Linked DNA regions of Homo sapiens: region 2 is linked to region 1. The links come from fine-mapping of genetic effects on gene expression. A gene starts in region 1. The other region holds a variant in brackets. All regions are shown on one strand. Distances are between the middles of the regions.

Region 1 (4,397 bases):
ACTAAATCAATAGTTTGGTAAAGAAGAAATACAAATGAACAAATATAAAATCTCATAAATTGGTTAGTAAGTATATGTAGAGTAATACTGTAATGAAGAGGAGAAACCTAAATTAGCTTAGGGGGGTGAGGGTCTCTGGGAAGGCTTCCTGAACTTGGTCTTAAAGAATGGGTATTAGTGATCTAGGCAGGAGAGAATGGGAGACAATATTCTATGATGAGGCAGCAGCGTAGAGGAACAAAGCAGCATGTTGTGGGCAGAGAACTACAAGCAATTCAGTATTGCTGGAGAGAAAGCGAGAAAGCTCATGGTATGGAGTGGAGAGAGATGATGCTAAAAAGGTAGGCAGTGGCCACACCACGAATGATCTTGTGGGGTATGTTAACAAACCTGGACTTTCTCTTGGCCTCAGAAGGATCTAGAAGGGGTGTAATATTTTCAGATTGTTAACTATAACTCTCTGACCCCCTTGAGTGAAGGAGACATTATTATCAGCTACAAGAGTGACAAAATGAGGACCTGAGAATCAAGATGGTGATAGACGGTATGGTTTCTATTGAGATATACAGGCAGACATGACAGACGATGTGGGGGTGACTCCCAAGTGTCTGGCTGGGGTTAATCTGTTGATGACAATACTCTCCTCACCCACCCCCACCCCCGACCCATCCAAGTAGATAATATGGAAAGAAAAGCAAAATGGAAAGGGAAGGTGATGGATTCAACCTTGGATGTGTTGAATATGCTTCCGGGTTATCTAGGTGAAGATTTCCAGCAGAACGTTAACATGAAGCCAAGAGGGAGGAAGTCTGGATAGGAGGCTGAAATTTGAATCTACAAAATATTAGCGATACTAGGAATTCTGAGTGAACAGCCAGTTTTTGTGAGGTTTTGTTTGTTTTACTTAAGCCATTCTAATAGGTGGGTTGTGGTAGCTCATTGTGATTTAAATGTTTATTTTCCTAATGTCTAATGATGTTTAGGATCTTTTTTTGTTTGTTTAAGATCTTTTAAAATAATTATTTGCTATTTGTGTATCTTCTTTGGTGTCTATTCAAATCTTTTGCCCATTTTTAAACAACGAACTGTTTTATTATTGCTTTCTGAGTGCTCCTTATATATTCTCCATACAAGTCCTTCATCAGATACATGCTTTGTAAATATTTTCAGTATGTGGCTTCAAGTCTTTTGAAGAGCATAAATTTTTACTTTGTTGAAGTCCAATTTATCAATTTTTTTCATCACGCTTTTGGTTTAAGAAATATTTGCCTAAATAAGGTCACGAATATTTCCTCCTATGTTTTCTTCTGGTATAGGTTTAGGTTTTCCATTTACATCTACGATCCATTTTGAGTTTTTTGGGGTGTGTATGTGGTGTGAGGAATAGATCAACGTAATGAGAGGGGATAAAACACAGCCACGAAGAGTTTATAGATAGGAAGTGCAAAAAGGTGGATGGAACCTGGGAATGAAAAAAAGCCAAGGTTCAAGGAAGCGGAGTTGGGCATTGTCGGGGAGGCAACAGGAAAATTCTGAGTAACCAACACTGCCTGCTAAGAAAAGCAATGACAGCTGTCTTTTTTAACTTGGATGAGGTCACCTTGGGAAGAGCATTTTCAGTCAAAACAAATCTTCCCTATTTCTAATTACATGTAACCAACAGCTTTATAAGAATTCCCCCGGCAGAAACACTTGAGAGGTCTGAAATCCCTGAGCACTATTAAAGGTCACTTCTTTAGGTACAGGAAGGTCTGGGATTCCTGACACTGAGGGTGACTGAAACATCCTTGGGGCACTCCAGGCATAAGGTCTTGGGGACAAACCCAAGGAGTCATTGCCTTGTTGGGAAATCAGAAGCACACTCACTGCTGGGTTTGCCAATCTCACGCTTCACCAGGAAGACACCTAGTTGAACTACAGGAGGATGAGAAGACTGGAATTAAAATCTGTGCACTCGGCCAAATCCGGGGACAAATCAGGAAAATCCTTCCCAGCCCTCCCTGTTTCTGGAGAGGAGGAGTAGGGCGCAGGGCCCCTCCCGACTCTCTTCCACGTGGCTCCTCTCGAGCGAAGAGCTACTGCACTTACCCAGGCTTAGGAAGCGGGTGTTTAAGCCATGGGTTAGAGGGCTCGTGAGCACGCCCGATCCTTTCCCTGAGGCTATGAAACGGTGGCTCCACGGACTCCTCTCGGCCGACTGACCTTTCGCCGCCCTGCCCCAGCAGCCGGCGGGTTTCTTCAGTGGAGCCGGGCTCTGGTCTCCGCAGCCCAGTAGCCCGCTAGCCCGGCCCCCTCCCGCTAGTCGTAAAGTGCAGTAAAGGCACCAGCATTTTGCGGCACCGTAGGTGAGGCCGGCGGCGTGGGCCTTTTCTCTGCACGGAGCCGGCGCTTTTGCAGTTGCTTCTGCGGAAAGGTGGTAGTTAAGAATTTGTAAAGGCCAGAGAACTACCTACGATTCTCTCAGCGGGTAATTGGCTGCTCCTAGGTTTGTGTAACAAGAGGCAAAACTGGTAGGGTTGTTTAAAACCTCTTATCCCAGTTCTTAAGCGTGACATAAGGTTCCCAAACCCCTCCTTGTGACTTGCCTCTTCTCTTGTGCTACTTTGGTTGTCATCGTGTTCATCACTAGATTTTAGATGTCCTCGGTGTTACTGACGGTTTTTCTGTCCACTTCGTCTTGCAGTCTCTCTTCTCCTCAAGTTTGAAATGCTTTATCTCATCGGGTTGGGCCTGGGAGATGCCAAGGACATCACAGTCAAGGGCCTGGAAGTTGTTAGACGCTGCAGTCGAGTGTATCTGGAAGCCTACACCTCAGTCCTAACTGTAGGGAAGGAAGCCTTGGTAGGTGCTGAGCGTTCCCCAGCCTCCTGGGAAGAAAGCTATCTAACATCTGATTTTCATACACTAAGCTGAACAGAATTTTCAGGTCTGCTTGTTTAAACCCTTTGAAACGCATCCCTTGTTCATTAATGATCTGAGGAGCAGAAGAATGGAAATTTTACACCAACCAAGTGACTTGGAAAATGAAAGGGTGCTTTGTCCTATTTTACAAGTCTAATTTTGTGGCTTTCTCCAGTAAATAGGAAAGCTATTTTATACTCCTGGGGGATAGTTATCAAAACCCCTTATTTCATGAGGTAGTCAAGAAACCCTTTCTGAGTTGAGTGCTAATGAGGAGCTGACACAGCCTTAATGAGTTGGTTATATATATTCAAAAACCAAGCTGAAAGCTTCCCCCTTTGAAGTGTGTCCATAGGGAATGGCGATTGCCTTTTTGTATCCTATCCAGAGAGATCTTATCTTAAATAGACTATCTCCCAATAAGGCTTATACTGATACACTTGTATATATTGAGTGAGCCTGGACTTAATATATAAAAATGTATGAGTATACACTTACATGAGTATACACTAAGTAACCAAAGTATTTGTTAGTATATTATACATTTATAGTTGGCCCTCATAAGGGCCCAGTAAATTTGGGGGAAGGGTCAACTTCAGGTTCATTGTCAAACTCTAAGTAGAATGTAAATCAAAGGATTAATACATATGTTATGGGAGGAGGGAGCAGATTTATTGTCATGTCTTCCAAACAAAAAATAGACTTAAAATTTTTAGGCCTCAGATTACTTTAAAATCTTATAGAAGGAATTAAGAACTGCTACTTGAATTGGCCATGCATTTAAATAAAAGTTGTGTGTAAAGACCAACTTTGATATATACATATATGTGGAGAGAGAGAGAAAATAAGTCTTGCTCTGTTGCCCAGGCTGGGGTGCAATGGTATGATCATGGCTCACTGCAGCCTCAGCCTCCTGGGCTCAAGTATCCTCCCACCTCAACCTCTCGAGTAGCTGAGACTACAGGTGGGTGCCATCATGCCCAGCTAATTTTTTGTATTTTTTGTAGAGACAGGGTTTTGCCACATTGCCCAGGCTGGTCACAAGTTCCTGGACTCTAGTGATCTGCCCACCTCGGCCTCCTAAAGTGCTGGGATTGTATAGGCACAAGCAACCACACCCAGCCTAAGGCCAGCTTTGATTTAAAAAACATTTTTTTTTCTCATTTTTTCACTCTTAGGATAGAACCAAAATATCTAAGCTCGAAATGATGGAAATGTGCGTCTCTAATCAGTGATTAAGGAAAAGTAAAAGGAACTTAACACCTTCAAGAAAAGACAGACAAATAACAAAACAGCAGTTTGATAGAATGAGATATCAGGGGATGGCATAGAGGAAAGTTTGGTTATAGTTTTATCTTTGTTACATGTTAATGTGACCTTGGACAAGTCCTTTAACTTTAGTGTCTTTTTTAAATGGGGTAAAAAACATCTACTTTAGGTGTTCAGCATAATTCTTAGCATAGGTTCTTAACTATGGTATATGGCACAAAACTGTT
Region 2 (4,397 bases), 180 kb after region 1:
TCTTTCTATCACTTAACATTTTTATTGTGAATTATGATTTTAAAACAGGTAAATAAAACATGTGCACAGTTTTAAAACAGGTTGTGAAAAGAATACCCATGTAACTACCACTCAGATAGGAAGGAGAGTATTCTGGGAACCCAGTACATTTTACAGTACTAATAGTCTGTACCTCATAATTTAGTACTTATGGTAATTAAGTATCATCTTGCCTTGTCTTATGGCTTAAATGTGCCATTGTATTCCTCCTACTCTATTGTAGGCTATTGAAAGGCAAGGGCTCTACAGATTATTCTTTAGAATATCCCACAGTGTCTCAAACTGTGCTAAGTAAATACTACATATTCAAGAGATGCTTGTTCATTGATTACAGACTAGGAAAAAGCAACACTTAGTACAAACAATATGTATGTTTATGTCCAAAAACTAACATTGTTATATCTTTCAAACACATGTTAATCTTTAGGAAATAGCACAGTTCTAACGTCTTAGCTTCTTTTTTTCCCACATATTGTCCTCCTTGGTTTCGGTTTTCTTTTCTTTATATGGCATTCAGCTTTCCTGGTGATTTCTCAGGGAATTTCCAGTTTTACAAAGCAGAATATAAAAGAATGCCTTGATAATAAATAGAAGTCCCTGGCAACACAGTAGAAACACCAATGATTGCCTGTCTTAATTCAGTTAAAGAACTGCTATAATCACAAAGCAGTCTTCTCTCTTCCACTGCACAATTCTCTCATGAAAAGAAACTCTGCATTGCATCCAAAGGTCTTTAGCAAATGTTAATAACATTCCACATATTGGAGGTTTTATCACACAGGACCTCCAGCAAAGATTCCATAACAGCAATAGGAAGAAAAATATACATATATATATATATATATATATATACACACACACTCTAAATATATATACTAAGGAAATAGTAAACCTAAGAAATGCACATTTGAAAAAAAAAAAAAAACTAATCCCTGAAGGAGTTCTCAGTGCAGGACATTTGACTTAAGGAATTGTGCATTGTAAATTACATTAAAAATGTATAAAATATGCTGATAGTGATATACAGCAAAACAGCATACATATTACAAGACAACAAAGAACTCTAATGTTTGGTCAGATCTATGAATCCCTGAGATGTTGGGTTAAGTAAGTATTCCTTACATAGGAGAATCTGTGATTCAGCAGCAGAAAGAAGGAAATCTATTCTTTTGTCCTATCTTACAGTTTCTATGACTGAGGCAAAATTCATTATATTAAAGAAGCATTTCTTGTTCCAGCTAATTATAATCAGACAGTGGAGAAAAGCAGAAAGAAAACTTACATTATCAAAATGGATATATTTACAAGAGCTTAGTTCATGCATAGAGCATTAACTAAGGCCACAAGTGAAATAGCTGTATTAGGTAAGGTAGTAAACCACCAAAAATGGTATCTGACAATCATGGTGTTCAATCAGTTAAGCAACTAAGCCTAACTGTCAAGCTTCAGATATGAGGAAATGGACAAAACTATTTGGAAGGCTTATATTTTTATTAATTTAGTTAACAAATATTTATTGAGTGCCTACCATGTGCCAGATCCTTTTATAGTTACTTGGGATATATCAGTGAACAAAATAGACAAAAGCCTTTGCTCTTATGTAGCTGACATTCTAGTGAGGATATGCTGATGGCCCTTCATGTTGTGTGATATGCCGTTTTTATGAATTTCAAAACCAAAAAAATACATTGCTGATTTTGTGGTGAAACCATAGAAAGACTAAAAGTAAACATAAGCCTCAAGATAGTGGTTAACGCCTGGGAGAAAGAGGGTAATAGGATCAGGGAGGAACAAACAGGTAGCTTCAACGATATTGGTGATAGTAAATTTCTGAGGTTGGGTAATGGATTAACAGGTGTTTATTTTATTATTTTACTTTTTAAGCTAGCACAAGTTATATAATTTCTTTTGCACATATAAAATATTACATCATGAAGTATTTTTATATTAAAATAGGAATGTTTTTAAAAAGAGCAAGTGGACAGGGCATGGAACAAGGGAGATAGCCCATGTAATTTAAAATGG[C/T]CGAGAAAGTGGCTGGCAAGATGGCCGAATAGGAAAAGCTCTGGTCTGCAGCTCACAGTGTGATCAACGCAGAAGGTGGGTGATTTCTGCATTTCCAACTGAGGTACCTGGCTCATCTCACTGGGACTGGTTAGACAGTGGGTGCAGCACAAGGAGGGCCAGCCAAAGCAGGGTGGGGTGCCTCACCCAGGAAGTGCAAGGGGTTGGGAAACTCCCTCCCCTAGCCAAGGGAAGCCATGAAGGACCATGCTGTAAGGGATGGTGCTATCCAGCCCAGATACTATGCTTTTCCCATGGTCTTTGCAACCCACAGACCAGGAAATTCTCTTGGGTGCCTATGCCACCAGGGCCCTGGGTTTCAAGCACAAAACTGGGCGGCCATTTGGGCACACACTGAGCTAGCTGCAGGAGTTTTTCTCATACCCCAGTGGCACCTGGAATGCCACCAAGACAGAACTGTTCACTCCCCTGGAAAGAGGGCTAAAGCCAGGGAGCCAAGTGGTCTAGCTCAGCGGATCCCACCCCCAGGGAGCCCAGCAAGCTAAGATCCACTGGCTTGAAATTCTCGCTGCCAACACAGCAGTCTGAAGTCGACCTGGGATGTTGGAGGTTGGTGGGGGAGGTGCGTCAGCCATTACTGAGGCTTGAGTAGGCGGTTTTCCCCTCGCAGTGTAAATAAAGCCACAGGGAAGTTTGGACTGGGTGATGCCCACCACAGCTCTGCAAAGCTGCTGTAGCCAGACTGCCTCTCTAGATTCTTCCTCTCTGGGCAGGGCATCTCTGAAAGAAAGGCAACAGGCCCAGTCAGGGGCTTATAGATAAAACTCCCATCTCCCTGGGCCAGAGCACCTGGGGGGAAGGGGTGGCTGTGGGTGCAGCTTCAGTAGACTTAAATGTTCCTGCTTGCTGACTCTGAGGAGAGCAGCGGATCTGCCAGCACAGTACTCAAGCTCTGCTAAGGGACAGACTGCCTCCTCAAGTGGGTCCCTGGTTTGCATGCCTCCTGACTGGGAGACACCTCCCAGCAGGAGTTGACCAATACCTCATACAGGAGAGCTCTGGCTGTCACCTGGCGGGTGCCCCTCTGGAATGAAGCTTCCAGAAGAAGGAACAGGCAGCAATCATTGCTGATCTGCAGCCTCTGCTGGTGATACCCAAGCAAACAGGGTCTGGAGTGAACCTCCAGCAAACTGGAGCAAACGTGCAGCAGAAGGGCCTGACTATTAGAAGGACAACTAACAGAAAGGAATAGCATCAACATGAACAAAAAGGACATCCACACAGAAACCCCATCCAAAGTCACCAACATCAAAGACCAAAGGTAGATAAATCCACGAAGATGAGGAAAAACCAGTGCAAAAAGGCTTAAAATGCCAAAAACCAAAACTCCTCTTCTCCTCCAAGGTATCACAACTCCTTGCCAGCAAGGGAACAAAATTGTATTGAGAATGAGTTTAACAAATTGACAGAAATAGGCTTCAGAAGGTGGGTAATAAAAAACTCCTCTGAGCTAAAGCAGCATGTTCTAACCCAACGCAAGGAAGCTAAGAAGCTTGAAAAAAGGTTAAAAGAATTGCTAACTAGAGTCACAAGTTCAGAGAAGAACATAAGTTACCTGATGGAGCTGAAAAACACAGCACGAGAACTTTGTGAAGCATACACAACTATCAATAGCCGAATTGATCAAGTGGAAGAAAGGATATCAGAGATTGAAGATCAACTTAATGAAATAATGCATGAAGACAAGATTAGAGAAGAAAGAATGAAAAGATATGAACAAAGCCTCCAGAAAATATGGGACTATCTGAAAAGATCAAGCCCACATTTGATTGGTGTACCTGAAAGTGACAGGGAGAATGGAACCAAATTGGAAAACATTCTTCAGGATATTATCCAGGAGAACTTCCCCAACTTAGCAAGATAGGCCAACATTCAAATTCAGAAAATTCAGAGAACACCACAAATATACTCCTTGAGAAGAGCAAACTGAAGACACATAATCATCAGATTCACCAAGGTTGAAATGAAGGAAAAAATGTTAAGGGCAGCCAAACAGAAAGGTTGGAATACCCACAAAGGGAAGCCCATTAGACTAACAGCGGATCTCTCTGCAGAAACCCTACAAGCCAGAGGCGAGTGGGGGCCGATATTCAACATTCTTAAAGAAAAGAATTTTCAACCCAGAATTTCATATCCAGCCAAATTAAGCTTCATAAGCGAAGGAGAAATAAAATCCTTTATAGATAAGCAAATGCTGAGAGATTTTGTCACCACCAGGCCTGCCTTACAAGAGTTACTGGAGGAAGCACTACATATGGAAAGGAACAACCAGT

What was found. PIP is the estimated chance that this variant, and not a neighbour inherited with it, causes the effect.
Region 2: its variant is the best candidate, but not a certain one, in a credible set for the expression of DPH5 in whole blood (TOPMed, PIP 0.52).

What each region holds. Positions count from the first base shown.
Region 1 is chr1:101,023,753-101,028,149 of GRCh38, reverse strand. DPH5 (diphthamide biosynthesis 5) reads left to right here and starts at 2,366. Exons shown (of 8, transcript NM_015958.3): 1 at 2,366-2,467; 2 at 2,684-2,841. The coding sequence starts at 2,707. It overlaps DPH5-DT (DPH5 divergent transcript), which reads right to left and starts at 2,304. Exons shown (of 5, transcript NR_109849.1): 1 at 2,089-2,304. RefSeq lists a silencer at 584-643 and enhancers at 2,435-2,544, 1,637-2,836.
Region 2 is chr1:100,843,775-100,848,171 of GRCh38, reverse strand. No RefSeq gene overlaps it. Among named protein-coding and RNA genes, the nearest start is that of EXTL2, 49 kb to the left of the region's middle. The variant C/T (reference allele first, on the strand shown) is at 2,065.